Linked DNA regions of Homo sapiens. The protein of the gene in region 1 purifies or fractionates together with the protein of each later gene. This does not show direct contact. Each region holds a gene or a part of one and is shown in the gene's direction. Other genes may lie near its edges.

Region 1 (6,533 bases):
CAAAAGTTCATATTCTTCTCATTGTGCAGTTTTAGCATAATACAAAGAACTAGGCCATTCTTTAATGTGAAAATTAGGTCCTAACATATACAGAAGTGAATAATAAAATGAGAAGCCTCCCTGCACCCATCTTCATCTCCAGTAATTATCAGCACTCGGCCGACTCCGTTTGCTCTGTACGCCACCTGCTTCCCTCCCTCTAGGACCATCTTTACACAAATCCCAAGCATCATATCATCTGTAAATATTTCAGAAATACCAATTTTTTGTTATGCATTTTTACAGACAGTATAGTCTTGCCTTTTCAGTGAAATCACTAATTTTTTAAATAATATTTTTACACAATCTGTGTTCCCTCAATTACACAACTTTTTGAGTAGTTTGTGGGACATTTATAGTTCTTAGAAAGTTTTTTGTCAAGTCAGTGGATCTAAATTTTGCACTGTTGAGGCAGTAGCAACTGGAATTGTCAGACTTCTTAAAACATTGTTATATTTTGTAATGAGACATGAATTTTACATATCATGTTTAAATATCATAACAGGACTCCATATGATTAAATTATAATTCTTACAAAAATGCTTTATCATGTCTCTATTACTTGTGATGTTTATCTTTTTGCCCAGCTTTTTATCTTGAAAAATGTTAAACCTACAGAAAAGCTGCTAAAATAATAGCACCCAAATCCTTTACCCTAAAGCTGCTAAAATAATAGCACCCAAATCCTTTACCCTAGATTCATCAATTGTAAATTCACACTTTTGTTCTGAATCATTTGATAGTTACTTGTAGAGATAACACTACTCCTAAATACTTCAGCATGTATCACCAGAGAACTGGGGCATTCTCCTATATAATTACAGTGTAATTTTCATACTCAGGAAACTGAGGTAAGTACAACACATTATTATCTAATGTGCAGTTTTTATACAGATTGTCCCAGTAATATTCTTTACTTCCTTATACAGAATGCAGTCAAGGATCATTCCTTGCATTTCTTTGTCAAATCTCTTTAGACTTCTTTAATCTAGAACAGTTTCCTTAACTCTGTTGCCAGCAGATGAGATTTTAAACCAGAGAGACCTGTTTGAAATCCCTGCTTTTCCCTTCTCTAGATGCATTTTTCTTAACCTGTTATTACAGTAGCCTTTTCATCTTATCCATAGTGGTGTTATGCTATGCCTGTAATATAGTGGATATCCCAATGACATGATTAACTACTTCTAACAAACAGTCTCTGTAGAAAAGTAGAGTAATTTGCCTCAACACATATATGATCATAGAATTGTAAAGAGAACCTTAAGGAAATCTGAAAGACAGTATAATCTAATTGCTTCTCGCCACGGAACTGAGATGTTTAAAAGTGAATCCCTTGCTCGTACCCAGCAAGCTAGAGAGGATGGACATCAAGGTCTCCCAATTGAGAGCCCAGTCACAACCATTATCCCCTACAGTCTTCAGCACAATGTGGGGAAATGTAAATAACCATTAGAAATGTGCTGGATAATTATGAAAGTCTTTATAACTTGTAAAAACAAAGTTCTGTTCATCTGTGATTTCATCTTAGCGAATTTTTGATAGAACAGCCTAAATTCTTTGATAGAACAGCCTAAATTTTTACTTTAAGACTTTAAATAGAGCAGTTTTAACTTGTCTAAGATTTGCAGGCAATAGAGAAATATACTGTCTGTTTCTATTACTCAGCATACCTCCTGCCTACCTGCTTGTCTTAAAAAGTGTGTGGTAAACCAGCAGATATTTAGGAAGAAACTAATAGTTGCAATCAAGAACCTATTATATCTAGATGCAGTGGCTCATGCCTGTAAATCCTGGCACTTTGGGAGGCTGAGGTGGGAGGATAGCTTGAGACTAAGGCTTCTAGACCAGCCTGGGCAACATGGTGAAACTCCATCTTAAAAAATTTTTTTTAAAAGAACCTATTATACATAGCAAATAACTTTCCCAATAACACTGCACTACAGTGTTTCTGTGGTAAGGATTTAATTGTACTTATGTTAATTGATCTTTCCTTTCTACCTTCCTGGGGTGGGTTCTCACTCTGTCACCCAGGCTGGAGTGCAATGGTACCCTCATGCTCACTGCAGCCTTGACTTCCCCAGGCTCAGGTGATCCTCTGACCTCGGCCTCCCAAGTAGCCAGGACCACAGGTGCGTGCCACCATGCCCACTTAATTTTTTGTAGAGACAGGCCTTCACCATGTTCCCTAGGCTGATCTCGAACTTCTGGGCTCGAGCAATCTGCCCGCCTCAGCCTCCCAAAGTGCTGGGATTACAGGCATGAGCCACCACACCTGGCCTGTTTTTTGAATATTCTAATTCCATTGTTACCTTGAGATAAATGAAGACATTACCAACCTGATTTACTTAAGGCAGATCCTTGAAGATCCTGCCTGAATGAACTAATGGAAGACCAGAGTTCCCTTATCTCAATGAGCTTATCTGATACAGTATCTATATCATGTGGTACCTGTAATTAGAAAAATCAAAGTCAGTCATAAACATTTAATAACCTATATCAGAATGTGATGTTTAATAACCTATATCAGAATATGATGTTTGACCGTGTCACAATATTGTTTTACCTATCCCATGCCTCTATTCCAAATGAAGGAAGTGAAGAATGCCTGGGCACTGTGGAAGGAGGGAAGGTCAGGTGTTTGGGGGATTTTGATAGGAATCAGCACTAAGCACAGACTATTTTCCTGAAAGGCAGATGTGTATGAGCTGTGGCTTGGCAGTTAAATACCACGAGGCAAGAAATTGGACTCATTAAATAAAAATTTGACTTTGGTTCAAGGTAAAAAGAGGTATTAAAAAAAAAGCTAATTGCACTGTTAATGCTTCCAGAGCTTTAGTAGATATAATTTGATAAGAAATATTTGGGAGACAAGCTTGTCAGAAAATGAACTCAGCTGCATTCTTATGCTCAGAGTCTTTCTTCTCTCTTGCTTCCCAGGGTTCTTGGGGATCTGGAAAGGATCAGTATAGCAGGGAACTGCTTGTGTCCTCCATCTTTGCAGCTGCTAGTCGCAAGAGGAAGAAGCCGAAAGAAAAAGCACAGCCTAGCAGCTCAGAAGATGAACTGGACAATGTATTTTTTAAGAAAGAAAATGTGGAACAGTGTCACAATGATACTAAAGAGGAGTCCAAAAAAGAAAGTGAGACACTGGGCAGAAAACAGAAGATCATCATTGCCAAAGAAAACAGCACTAGGAAAGACCCCAGCACGACAAAAGATGAAAAGATATCACTAGGAAAAGAGAGCACGCCTTCTGAAGAACCCTCACCACCACACAACTCAAAACACAACAAGTCACCAACTCTCAGCTGTCGCTTTGCCATCCTGAAAGAGAGCCCCAGGTCACTTCTGGCACAGAAGTCCTCCCACCTTGAAGAGACAGGCTCTGACTCTGGCACTTTGCTCAGCACGTCTTCCCAGGCCTCCCTGGCAAGGTTTTCCATGAAGAAATCAACCAGTCCAGAAACGAAACATAGCGAGTTTTTGGCCAACGTCAGCACCATCACCTCAGATTATTCCACCACATCGTCTGCTACATACTTGACTAGCCTGGACTCCAGTCGACTGAGCCCTGAGGTGCAATCCGTGGCAGAGAGCAAGGGGGACGAGGCAGATGACGAGAGAAGCGAACTCATCAGTGAAGGGCGGCCTGTGGAAACCGACAGCGAGAGCGAGTTTCCCGTGTTCCCCACAGCCTTGACTTCAGAGAGGCTTTTCCGAGGAAAACTGCAAGAAGTGACTAAGAGCAGCCGGAGAAATTCTGAAGGAAGTGAATTAAGTTGCACCGAGGGAAGTTTAACATCAAGTTTAGATAGCCGGAGACAGCTCTTCAGTTCCCATAAACTCATCGAATGTGATACTCTTTCCAGGAAAAAATCAGCTAGATTCAAGTCAGATAGTGGAAGTCTAGGAGATGCCAAGAATGAGAAAGAAGCACCTTCGTTAACTAAAGTGTTTGATGTTATGAAAAAAGGAAAGTCAACTGGGAGTTTACTGACACCCACCAGAGGCGAATCCGAAAAACAGGAACCCACATGGAAAACGAAAATAGCAGATCGGTTAAAACTGAGACCCAGAGCCCCTGCGGATGACATGTTTGGAGTAGGGAATCACAAAGTGAATGCCGAGACTGCTAAAAGGAAAAGCATCCGGCGCAGACATACACTAGGAGGGCACAGAGATGCTACCGAAATCAGCGTTTTGAATTTTTGGAAAGTGCATGAGCAGAGCGGGGAGAGAGAATCTGAACTTTCAGCTGTAAACCGGTTAAAACCAAAATGCTCAGCCCAGGACCTTTCCATCTCAGACTGGCTGGCCAGGGAACGCCTACGCACCAGTACCTCTGACCTTAGCAGAGGAGAAATCGGAGATCCCCAGACAGAGAACCCAAGCACACGAGAAATAGCCACGACCGACACACCTTTGTCTCTTCATTGCAACACAGGCAGTTCTTCCAGCACCTTGGCTTCAACAAACAGGCCCCTTCTTTCCATACCACCACAGTCACCTGACCAAATAAACGGAGAAAGCTTCCAGAACGTGAGCAAAAATGCTAGTTCTGCAGCGAATGCCCAACCTCATAAACTGTCTGAAACCCCAGGCAGTAAAGCAGAGTTTCATCCCTGTCTTTAAACTGGGGGTATGTCCACTCTAGCAAGTAAAAAAACTACTGTTACACGTTCCAGTAACTCTGTCAATATTTTCTTGTATCAGAATTGTTATTATGCAGCCTTCATTTGGGCTGGTTTCATCATTTTGCACTGTGAAATAGCTTTACAGTGCATTACTACAGCCAGAAGAACATATATATATATATATATATTTAAAAATATATCGGATAGTTGTATACAAATGAGCAAGGTATTTGTTGCAACTTACTACATAGCATATACCCAAAATCACTGAAGAAAATCGCTGGCATCAGTGTGCAGCAAATTTGTTCTTTTGGTTTCATCACTAACAAAAGTGCCTCATCATAAAAATACAGTTGGTTTTTAGGGTGCCATATTGTTAAAATTAGATAACTTACTTACATTGAATAAACGAATGCGTTTTATTGGTAACAGATATCATTACATTTACCAGTTTTAACACAGGTGGATACAGAACTTCCATTCTTTAGTCATTCCAGGTGGATCTGAGTTTTATATTCAAACTTTTAATACAGTTTTTGAGTTTTGTGTGACTTGAATTTTTAATCTTTCTGTAAAATACGTAACTTAAATGAACATATTAAATGTGTATCTTTTCTTCAGATACCAGATTTGATATAATGTTGTAACATAGGTGTGTAGATAGTGGATCCTGGATGGAACTGGCTTCTTTATCGAGAAGAATATAATTCTGCATGAGGACTTAATGAATCCAAACCTGTGTCATGCCTGTGTGCATACCCAATTAAACACTGGAAATAAAAATTGTTTTGGTGAATTTTGCATGGCTTGAAACTTATTCTGATATATTTTTAGATGTCATCCATTTATAACTACCTTACATGATTAATTGGTCCTGACTTTAAAAAGGTGCCTACTATATTTATACATTCCATCTTCTCCTCTTTCTTGCTGTGGTGGGTAGAGACTCTTTCTTACAGATGCTTACATTAGCCTAACCTCACTTGTTGACTGATAGTGTTTAACTCTTCTAGGTAAAGTAATGTATGTTATGTTAATGTTCTTTTCGTGAGTGAAACGAACATGAGTTTGGAGTCAGTCCAGCTCTACCTAGGTATGTGAACTTGAACACATTATTTAACTTCTCTGAATTTGTTTTCTCATATAAACAGTTAGTTACAGTAACACTACCTATTATAAGGGTGATTAGATTTAAATGAGATACTGTTCCACTTACAGTGCCTGCCACACACTAGTTTCAAAATAGAACAAAGCTATTGTTGGAAGTAATGGTTACAAAAAAATCTCAGACTGTTAAGGCTGAGAAGGACCTTAACAGTCATCAAATCCAGAGATTGTCAACTGTCAAACATGATACTTTCTTAAAAGTATTTTGAGATTTCCCCTTTACCATCATGAAATTCATAATATATCTAAATATAACTTTACATTGAGTATGTTATGATATAGACCATAATCCCCTATTATAAAAGAAAAATGAAAGTGATTTATAATAAAATAAATTTTTCAATATGCAAATGCTCAGGTACAACTACATCATGAAAATAATATAATGGAATAGTCAGATGTTTGCTCCAGTATATAGAGTCACTAACAATGGTAACTACACATGGAGATGGTACCATGAATAGTTTGCTGCTGGCGATGAGATTTTACTAGGAGTCATGCTCTGCTTTTAAAGTTTTGAACAAAACAAAGCACACACTTCCCTTAGTTTACATGAGGGGGAGTTCTTGCAGTGTATTATTAAAAGTGTCAAAAACACTTTTTACTTATATGTTTTAAAAGTTACTTTCAAGGCTCAAATAGTTTTATATTATTTGTTCTTGCTCCTCATTTTTTCTATATTTTTTTTTCTTT
Region 2 (9,661 bases), on another chromosome or scaffold:
ATATTATATATATATAATATATTATATATATATAAATATATTTATATATATTTTATATTTATAGATAATATATTTATATATATTTTATATTTATAGATAATATATTTATATATATTATATTTATAGATAATATATTTATATGTATATTTTATATTTATATATAATATATTTATATATTTTTTTATATTTATATATATAATATATTTATATATACATATATATATATGGAGTGGGGGTGGCCGAGGGGGAAGAGTGTGTGTCTGCGGGAGAAAGAGGAGAATCGCCCAAGCGGCCTCGGAAGCCCCAGGGAGTGGAGGCTCCCGCCGTGGAGCCATGTGGTGTATGTGTGGTAACACCACGTCTACGCCCCTCTCACTGATGCTGCCGCGGTGTCTGGAGCTGAGCGGGAAACAGCCGCGGTTAGTTTTTTATATGGACTTGGAGACACAGGGCACAGCTGGGCTGACGCCCTCTCCACCGTCCGGCTCCCTCACGTCAATTCCATCTGTCCCCATGTGCCTAGGATCCCTGTGACTCTCAACATGAAGATGGTGACACCTTCCTGATTTGACCTGATGGGGCTGAGTCCAGATGCCCCAGAGGACGAGGCTGGCATCAAGAAGGCAGCAGAGAACATCAAGGCCTTGATTGAGCATGAAATGAAGAACGGGATCCCTGCCAATCGAATCGTCCTGGGAGGCTTTTCACAGGGCGGGGCCCTGTCCCTCTACACGGCCCTCACCTGCCCCCACCCGCTGGCTGGTATCGTAGCATCGAGCTGCTGGCTGCCTCTGCACCGGGCCTTCCCCCAGGCAGCTAAAGGCAGTGGCAAGGGCCTGACCATCCTCCAGTGCCATGGGGAGCTGGACCCCATGGTGCCCGTACGGTTTGGGACCCTGACGGCTGTTGTCACACCTGCCAGGGTCCAGTTCAAGACATACTCGGGTGTCATGCACAGCTGCTGTCCTCAGGAGATGGCAGCTGTGAAGGAATTTCTTGGAGAAGTTGCTGCCTTCTGTCTAACTAGTCGCTGGCCCCAGTGCGGTGCCCCAGCTCATGGGGGACTCAGCAAGCAAGCGTGGCACCATCTTGGATCTGAGCCAGTCGAGCCCCTGTCCCCACCCTTCCTGGCCTGTCCTTTTCCCACAGGCCTCTGGGGCAGGTGGCAAGGCCTGGCCGGGCTTTCCTTCCTGGCCTCAGCCACCTGGCTCTGTCTGCAGCAGGGGCAGGCTGCTTTCTTATCCCATTTCCCTGGAGGCAGGCCTCCCTGGCAGCAGTATTGGAGGGGCTACAGGAAGCTAGAGAAAGGGGCCCAGCTGCTGACCCACTCACTCAGGACCTCACTCACTAGCCCCGCTTTGGGGCCCCTCCTGTGACCTCAGGGTTTGGCCCATGGGGCCCTTCCAGGCCCCTGCTCTAACTGATTCTGCCCAGATAATCGTGTGTCTCCTGCCTCCACTCAGCTACTTCTCAGTCATGAAGGTGGCCATGGCCCTGAGGTCCCCTTGCTGCTGTGGGCTCCCTGTCCCTGGGCAGGAGTGCTGGTGAGGAGGTGGAGCCTTTTGAGGGGGGCCTTCCCTCAGCTGTTTCCCCAAACTGGGGGGCTGGGCCCTGCCTCCCCATTACCCTCCTTCCCTGCAGGCCTGGAGCCTGTAGGGCTGGACTGAGGTTCAGGTCTCCCCCAAGCTGTCTCACTCTGACTTTGTCCCCACTCTAGAGCAGGGAAGGGGTGGGGGAGGAGTTGTGTCTCATCTTCTGTCTCCATGTGGTTTTTGGGTGCTTTTCTTGTTGTGTCCTGGATTCTGATAAAATTAAAGAAATTGCTTCCTCAAAAAAAAAAAAAAATATATATATATATATATATGCCCAGGTGCAGTGGCTCACGCCTGTAATCCCAGCACTTTGGGAGGCCGAGGTGGGTGGATCACCTGAAGTCAGGAGTTCGAGACCATCCTGACCAACATGGAGAAACCCCATCCCTACTAAAACTACAAAATTAGCCGGGCATGGTGGCGCATGCCTGTAATCCCAGCTACTCAGGAGGCTGAGGCAGGAGAATCGCTTGAACCTGGGAGGCAGAGGTTGCGGTGAGCTGATATCGCACCATTGCACTCCAGCCTGGGCAACAAGAGTGAAACTCCGCCTCAAAAATAAATTAATTAATTAAAAATTAGGGCCAAGATCACGCCATTGCACTCCAGCCTGGGTGACAGAGTGAGACTCTGTCTCAAAAAAAAAATATATATATATATGTATATATGTATATATATGTATATATGCGTATACACGTATATATGTATATATGCGTATACACGTATATATGTATATATGTATATATGCGTATACACGTATATATGTATATATGTATATATGCGTATATACGTATATATGTATATATGTATATATGCGTATATACGTATATATGTATATATGTATATATGCGTATATACGTATATATGTATATATGTATATATGCGTATATACGTATATATGTATATATGTATATATATGTATATATGTATATATATACACACACACATATACATATATATTTGTGATTTATTTATTTTTCTTTTAGAGACGGGGTCTCCTTATATTTCCCTAGCTGGCCTCAAACTCCCGGCCTCAAGGGGATCCTCCTGTCTTAGCCTCCCCAGTAGCTGGGACTACAGTCGCCTGGCCCTCACCTGAGAGTCACATGCCTAAGAGTGGCTACGCTGGGCAGTTCATTCAATGTCCCTCCCCCACCTGTTCCAAGCAACCACTGATGTGCTGTCTGTAACTACAGATTAGTCGCATTTTCTGGAATGTTCTATAAATGGAATCATACAGTGCGTGTTTTTTGTAGCTTCTTTTGTTCGGTGTGCTTTTGAGATTAGTCCCTGTTTTGAGAGTAGCATAGTCTGTTCCTTTCTGTTGCCAAGTTTCATTCCATTGTAGGGGACACTTTGATTCATGTTACTCATCCCTCTTGTTGATGGAGGTTTTGGGAGTGTTTTTATAAGAGGGCAGAGTCCAGATCCCAATTAATTACAGGGTGGGTTTTGTGTACCCTGGAGGAACCCTTGCATCATAGTCAGAAGGCAGGTGAAGCTGAGTGAGGTGGCTCCTGCCTGTAATCCCAGCAGTTTTGGAGGCTGAGGTGGGAGAATCACTTGAGCCCAGGAGTTCAAGACCAGCCTGGGTAACAGCGAGACTCTGTTTCTACAAAAAATTTAAAAATTAGCCTGATATGGTGGGGTAGGCTTTAGTCCCAGCTACTTGTTTTTTTGTTGTTGTTTTTGTTTTTGTTTGTTTTTTTGAGATGGAGTCTTGCTCTGTCGCCCAGGCTGGAATGCAATGGCGTGATCTCGGCTCACTGCACCCTCTGCCTCCCAGGTTCAAGCGATTCTCCTACCTCAGCCTCCCGAGTAGTTGGGATTACAGGTGCATGGCCACCATGCCCGGCTAATTTGTGTATTTTTAGTAGAGATGAGGTTTCACCATGTTGGCCAGGCTGGTCTCGAACTCCTGACCTCAAGTGATCTGGGTTTTGTTTTTTATTTTTATTTTTTATTTTTTATTATTTTGAGATGGAGTCTCTCTGTCACCCAGGCTGGAGTGCAGTGGCATGATCTCGGCTCACTGCAACTTCCGCCTCCTGGGTTCAAGCGATTCTCGCGCCTCAGCCTTCCAAGTAGCTGGGACTATAGGCACCACACCCAGCTAATTTTTTTGTATTTTTAGTAGAGACAGAGTTTCACCCTGTTGACTAGGCTGGTCTTGAACTCTTGTCTTCAAATTATCCACCCGCCTCGGCTGATAGTCCCAGCTACTTGGGAGGCTGAGGTGGGAGGATCACTGGAGCCTGGGAGGTCGAGGCTGCAGTGAGCTGTGAAGCTGTGATGATCGTGCCACTGCACTTCAGCCTGGGTGACAGAGTGAGATCCTGTCTCAAAAATAAATAAATAGGAGGGCAGGGATCTGTGTTGGTGGATGTGATTTGGAAGGAGGCACTGGGTGTGGGTGGGTAGACAGGGAACCAGGCTGGTGTCATGCCACAAGGGGTTCACACGGGTGATCATTGCTAGACTGAGGGAGAAGATAAGGCCTAGGATGATCCAATCTGGAGGTCAAAGCATGGCATTCAGCTCTGTCATTTTTCTCTGCCTTCCATTTCTGCAACCTCAAATGGGCGCAACGTCCCTACCCCCCAACCCCAGTTCACCCGATGCCAAGTTGCATTATCTGTTTCCTGTGCATGGAGGCCCCCTGATTTCCAGGAGGGAGTGAACTGTGCATATGAGCTTGCGATGGGGTTAGCAGTGGGGCACAGGGCGCTGGTTTCCTGGAATGGGGTAAAAAGTGGCTGTAAGTCTGGAGGGATGCGACATCCAGGCGGAAAGCTCATGGAGGCCATATGAGGAGGGGACTTGGCCGACAGAGGTGACAAGGCCAGACTCTTTTTTTGTGCATGTGTGACAGAGTCTTGCACTGTCGCCCAGGCTGGAATACAGTGGCACGATTTCGGCTCACTGCAAGCTCTGCCTCCTGGGTTCACGCCATTCTCAGCCATACTCAGGCCATACTCAGCCTCCCGAGTAGCTGGGACTACAGGCGCCCACCACCACGCCCGTTTAATTTTTTGTATTTTTAGTAGAGACAAGGTTTCACCGTGTTAGCCAGGATGGTCTCGATCTCCTGACTTTGTGATCCGCCCACCTCGGCCTCCCAAAGTACTGGGATTACAGGCCTGAGCCACCATGCCCGGCCCAGACTCTTCTTATAAGGAGAGGGAGCTGAGGAATGGCCATTTCCACCCTCAGGCTCCCACCCTCTTCATGCCACAGTCCTGGAGCACCGCTCTCCACCGAGGCCCCTGCCCTGGCTGAAGTCAGCAACAGGACACCTCCCACTCGCTCCGGCTGGGCTGGGACCCTTGTAAAGGATCTTCTGCGTCCTTCATGAACTTGTGTTTTTGTTTTTTTGTTTGTTTTTGTTTTTGAGACAGAGTCTCACTCTGTCGCCCAGGCTGAAGTGCAGTGGCGCAATCTCGGCTCACTGTAACCTCCGCCTCCCGGGTTCAAGCGATTCTCCTGCCTCAGCCTCTCGAGTAGCTGGGATTACAGGTGCTCGCCAGCATGCCCGGCTAATTTTTGTATTTTTTGGTAGAGACAGGGTTTCGCCATGTTGGCCAGACTGGTCTCGAACTCCTGAGCTCAAGTGATCCGCCCGCCTCAGCCTCCCAAAGCAGTGGGATTACAGGTGTGAGCCACCGCGCCCGGCCTTATGCACTTGTTTTGACACCTGCTAGGTCGACAGAACCTTGTCCCCCGGAAGCCCAGCTCTGCCAGGAAGTCTGGGCTGACTTGACATCCCGTTAGCTGGGAGGGTGTGGAGGGTGGGCGTGCTCTACCCTGCAGACGGCTGGGTCACCTCTCACAGAATATACTGTGTCTCCTGTCGCTCTCCCTCCTATTCCTTTCTTTATCTTCCCCAAAATCTGGGGTCTACCTTGCATCCTGAAATTCCCAGGGCAGCATTCTCTTAGCAGTCCCTCGACCCCCCAACCAGATAAGGGGTTTCCTGGCGTCTGGGGAACACCTTCGGGTGTGGGGCGGAGGGCGGCTGCCCCCCAGAGACCCTGGGCGGCCTAGCTTTCGCAGACGCGAAGGACTGGATAGTGCCAGGGCCACCGAGCGGCCGGATTGGTGTGTGGGCCAGAGGCGCGGTGGTCCCGCCTCCTGGTTGCCAGGGCCCAGCCTATCCGCGTCCAGGCGGTCCTTGGTGCCAGGTGGTTGTGGTGGGGGTCGGGGCAGGTGTATGTGTTGGGAAGGACAGTGGAGGACCCCAGGGATTTGCTCCCCCAGTCCCAACCGTTGACTATCTGGGTTCCTCAGGCGCAGCTGGGGAAACAGGCTTCCCCCGGACCGCAGAGAAGCCACCCTTCTCTCCAAAGCGCGCTTCTCCCCCATCCCCCTCGGCGCGCTTCCGCCGGCCGCGCTCCCGGGTCCGGATCGAGCGCGCGCCCCCGGCTCTCCCGCCCGCGGCCGAGGGGCGGGACCGGCTCGGCTCCCCCGGCGCCGCAGCCCGCAGCCCCCTCCCCTCGCCTCCTCGCCGCTGGCGGCCACCGCGTCGCTCCGGCCCGGGCCCCACCCCAGGCGACTCTGTGAGGAGCGGCCGGAGGCCGGAGGCGGAGGTGAGCGCGACGCGAGCAGGTGGAGAGGCTGGGCGCGGGCCAGGCCCGGCTGGGGGAGGGGTCGGGCCCGGGACGCGGCTCTTTGTCTCCCGGAGCCCGTTCGCGGGCAGCGGGGCCGCTCTGCCTCCCGGCAGGTGCAGGCATCCCTCGGGGAGGCCAGGGGAGGCCGATGGGGGCTGGCGGGGAGACCCGGGCGTGCGCTCCGGGTCTGGAGGGATGCGACATCCTGAGCCCGTGGCAGTCCCCCGCTCTCGAGGCTGGCGGTCTGAGTCCCTGAAGGGGCAAGGGGCAGGGGCGTGGAGATCGGTCCTGAATTGGAGCCGAGGCGGGGGAGGCGGTGGGCTGGGGCGGGCAGGGCCTCTTCGCTTTAGGGAAAAGCGGTGGGGGGTGGGACTTGGGGACAGCGAGGAGCAGTGGGGCTGGCGAGTGGGTGTAGGTGCGTGGGAGCCGAGCGGATGGAAGCCGAGGCCGAGGTTTGAGTGTCCATGGGTGGCGATGCTGCGAAAGGGCAGTGAGGTAGCAGGGTCCAGGTCTCTGGAGGCGGCGTAGCTGTCCAGAACCTGGGATGCGGACCGGTTTGTCTCTTCAGGTGCAAGATGGACAACAAGAGAGACAAGGCGAAGGCAGGGGCCGCCGCGCGGACGCCGGCTGCTCGCGCTCCTGGACTTCTGACCCCCAGGCCCCCAGGCTCTCCTCGACCCCCTCCCCCAGTAACTCCCGCAGCCCTCCGAGTTCTGGGAGCTGCGGGAGCAGTGGGGCGAAAGCCTCTGGCAGAGCGAGCGGGGGGCATCGGCGGGGCCACTATTCCCGAGTCTGCTCCCCGAGCGGGACCAACGCGGAGTGCTGGGACAAGTTCCCGAAACCCTGGTACCCCAGCCTCCTTCCTCAGCTCCGCCCCCATCTTCCCTCCCCCTTCCAATACCTGTCCAGTCTCACCTCCACTGCCACCTCTCCGGGGCACCTGTGACTCGGCCTTCTCCCCGCAGCCTCCAGGCCCCCAGCCTCTGGGAGAGGGGAGAGAGCTCCTCCTGCCAAGAACACCAGCCCAGGCCCTGTTTCTAGCCCAGGGCGTGCCAGCGGGACCACCAGGTAACCTGCTCCCTCTCCCCCAGTCTCCTAAGCCAGGGTTAGCGTCACAGAGTCTGGAACCTTTTATTTTACACGAGTTGGGGCGCGGGAGCACTTGCAGGTCACTGGGCACAAATTGGGTGAAAGCCATTATTGGTCCTCAGAGAGGGCACATGCCCATTTCACAGATGGGAAAATAGAGACTTGGGAAGCCAAACAAAGACCTAGGCCTGAGCGTGGCCCCTTCTGTCTCCAGGCCAGGCCCTCTTGGCCAGAAGGGACTCCGGATCTCAGCGGAGGAAACTGTGGCCAGAGGAAAAGCTACAGAGGCTCCCAAAAGGAGTGCCCTCAGCGCTGGGGCACGGAGAGGTACGTGACCTGGAGAAGAGTGGGGTTCCTGGGCAGCAAGGGGAGCCGCCTCAGAGGTATCGGTGACCCTTGGCCTTCTACTTTTTCTCCAGACACTTCCGGGCCTACCCCAGGAACCCCGTCCCCGGCCATGGCCCGTCGGTCCCGGGCTGCGGGCACCGAGGTGGGGCTCCCCCGGCCAGCTCCGAGTGCCCGGCCACGGCCCCCGACAGAGGGCCCCCGGAAATCAGTGAGCAGCGCCTCGGAGCACAGTACCACCGAGCCAAGCCCGGCTGCCAGGAGGCGGCCCAGCGCCGGTGGGGGTCTCCAGAGGCCGGCCTCGCGCTCCCTGAGCTCCAGCGCCACCCCTCTCTCCTCCCCAGCCCGTTCTGGGCCCTCAGCCCGCGGAACACCCAGGGCTCCTGCGCATCCCTCGCAGCCCAAGCCGAAAGGACTGCAGGCTCTGCGACCCCCTCAGGTCACACCCCCAAGGAAGGACGCAGCCCCAGCACTAGGACCGCTTTCTTCCTCTCCTTTGGCCACACCCTCTCCATCGGGTACCAAGGCAAGACCCGTACCGCCTCCCGACAATGCAGCCACTCCCCTGCCAGCCACGCTCCCTCCCTCTCCACCGGTAACGCCCCCTCCGCCAGCCGCTCTCCAAAGTCAGGCCCCGCCCACCCTGCCGGCCACGCCCCACTCGTCGAGCCTTACCTGTCAGTTGGCCACGCCCCTTCCTCTAGCCCCTCCTTCTCCCTCTGCTCCACCTTCTCTGCAGACCCTCCCCTCTCCACCAGCCACGCCCCCCTCGCAAGTTCCACCCACACAGCTGATTATGTCCTTTCCAGAAGCAGGCGTCTCTTCCCTGGCCACAGCCGCTTTTGTGGCTTCAGTCTCTCCATCAGTTTCATCCCCTCTGCAGAGTATGCCCCCCACCCAAGCTAATCCAGCGTTGCCCTCTCTTCCGACTCTCCTCTCTCCCTTGGCCACACCTCCTCTGTCAGCCATGTCTCCTCTACAAGGCCCTGTTTCTCCGGCAACATCTCTGGGGAATTCGGCTTTTCCCCTGGCCGCACTCCCTCAGCCAGGCCTTTCTGCTCTGACCACGCCCCCTCCGCAGGCCAGTCCTTCCCCGTCTCCGCCCTCTCTCCAGGCCACGCCCCACACTCTGGCCACTCTTCCTCTGCAGGACTCTCCTCTTCTGGCCACATTGCCTCTGCAGGCCTCTCCCTCTCCTTTGACCACAGTCTCTCTGCAGGATCCTCCTCTAGTTTCTCCCTCTCTTTTGGCCTCACCGCCTCTGCAGGCTCCGCCCCACCCACAGGCCCCACCTTCTATGACTACGCCCCCTATGCAGGCCCCGCCCTCTCTCCAGACCATTCCCCCAATACAGGTCCCACATTCTCTGACCTCACCGTCTCTGCAGGCACCTCCCTCTCCTCTGGCTTTGTCCTCTCTGCAGGCCACAACTTCTTTGGGCTCACCCACTCTGCAGGCCACACATTCTTTCCTGACAATGTCCCCTAGGCAAACCCAAGCTTCTTTGATCTCACCTTCTCGGCCGGCCTCTACTCCCCCTGATTCACCCCCTCTGCAGGCCCCTCTTTCCCTTCCTGCCTCACCCCCTCTGCAGACTTCTCTCTCTCCTGCTGTCTCACCCCTAAGCTCACCCCTGACCATACACCCTCTGCAGGCGCTATCTTCTCTGGCCTCCCACTCTCCTCAGGCACCTCTCTCTTCCCTGATCATGCCCCCTCTGGAGACCCAATCTTCCCTAGCCCCACCCTCTCTGCAGACACCTCCTGCTTCCCTGACCACACCCCCTCTGGAGAACCTACCTTCTCTAGCCCCGCCTCCTCTGCAGACAGCTTCTGCTCCCCTGACCACACCCCCTCTGGAGAACCTACCTTCTCTAGCCCCGCCTCCTCTGCAGACAGCTTCTGCTCCCCTGACCACACCCCATCTGGAGACTCCACCTTGTCCAGCCCCATGCCCTCTGCAAGCACCACCTTCGCCATTGACCACGCCCCCTCCGGAGACGCCCTCTTCCATAGCCACGCCTCCTCC

Evidence for each region.
Region 2: the proteins of ARHGAP21 (region 1) and PRR36 purify together in Homo sapiens (affinity purification with mass spectrometry; 2 studies listed by BioGRID and IntAct, with this or other methods). This does not show direct contact.

Annotation. Positions count from the first base shown.
Region 1 is NC_000010.11:24,582,550-24,589,082, reverse strand, and holds the end of ARHGAP21 (rho GTPase-activating protein 21), read left to right. Parts: intron 1-2,976; coding exon 2,977-4,671; 3' UTR 4,672-5,469; downstream 5,470-6,533. UniProt on the Homo sapiens protein: Functions as a GTPase-activating protein (GAP) for RHOA and CDC42. Downstream partner of ARF1 which may control Golgi apparatus structure and function. Also required for CTNNA1 recruitment to adherens junctions.
Region 2 is NC_000019.10:7,870,803-7,880,463, reverse strand, and holds the start of PRR36 (proline-rich protein 36), read left to right. Parts: upstream 1-6,073; 5' UTR 6,074-6,178; intron 6,179-6,767; 5' UTR 6,768-6,774; coding exon 6,775-7,045; intron 7,046-7,164; coding exon 7,165-7,267; intron 7,268-7,502; coding exon 7,503-7,615; intron 7,616-7,707; coding exon 7,708-9,661.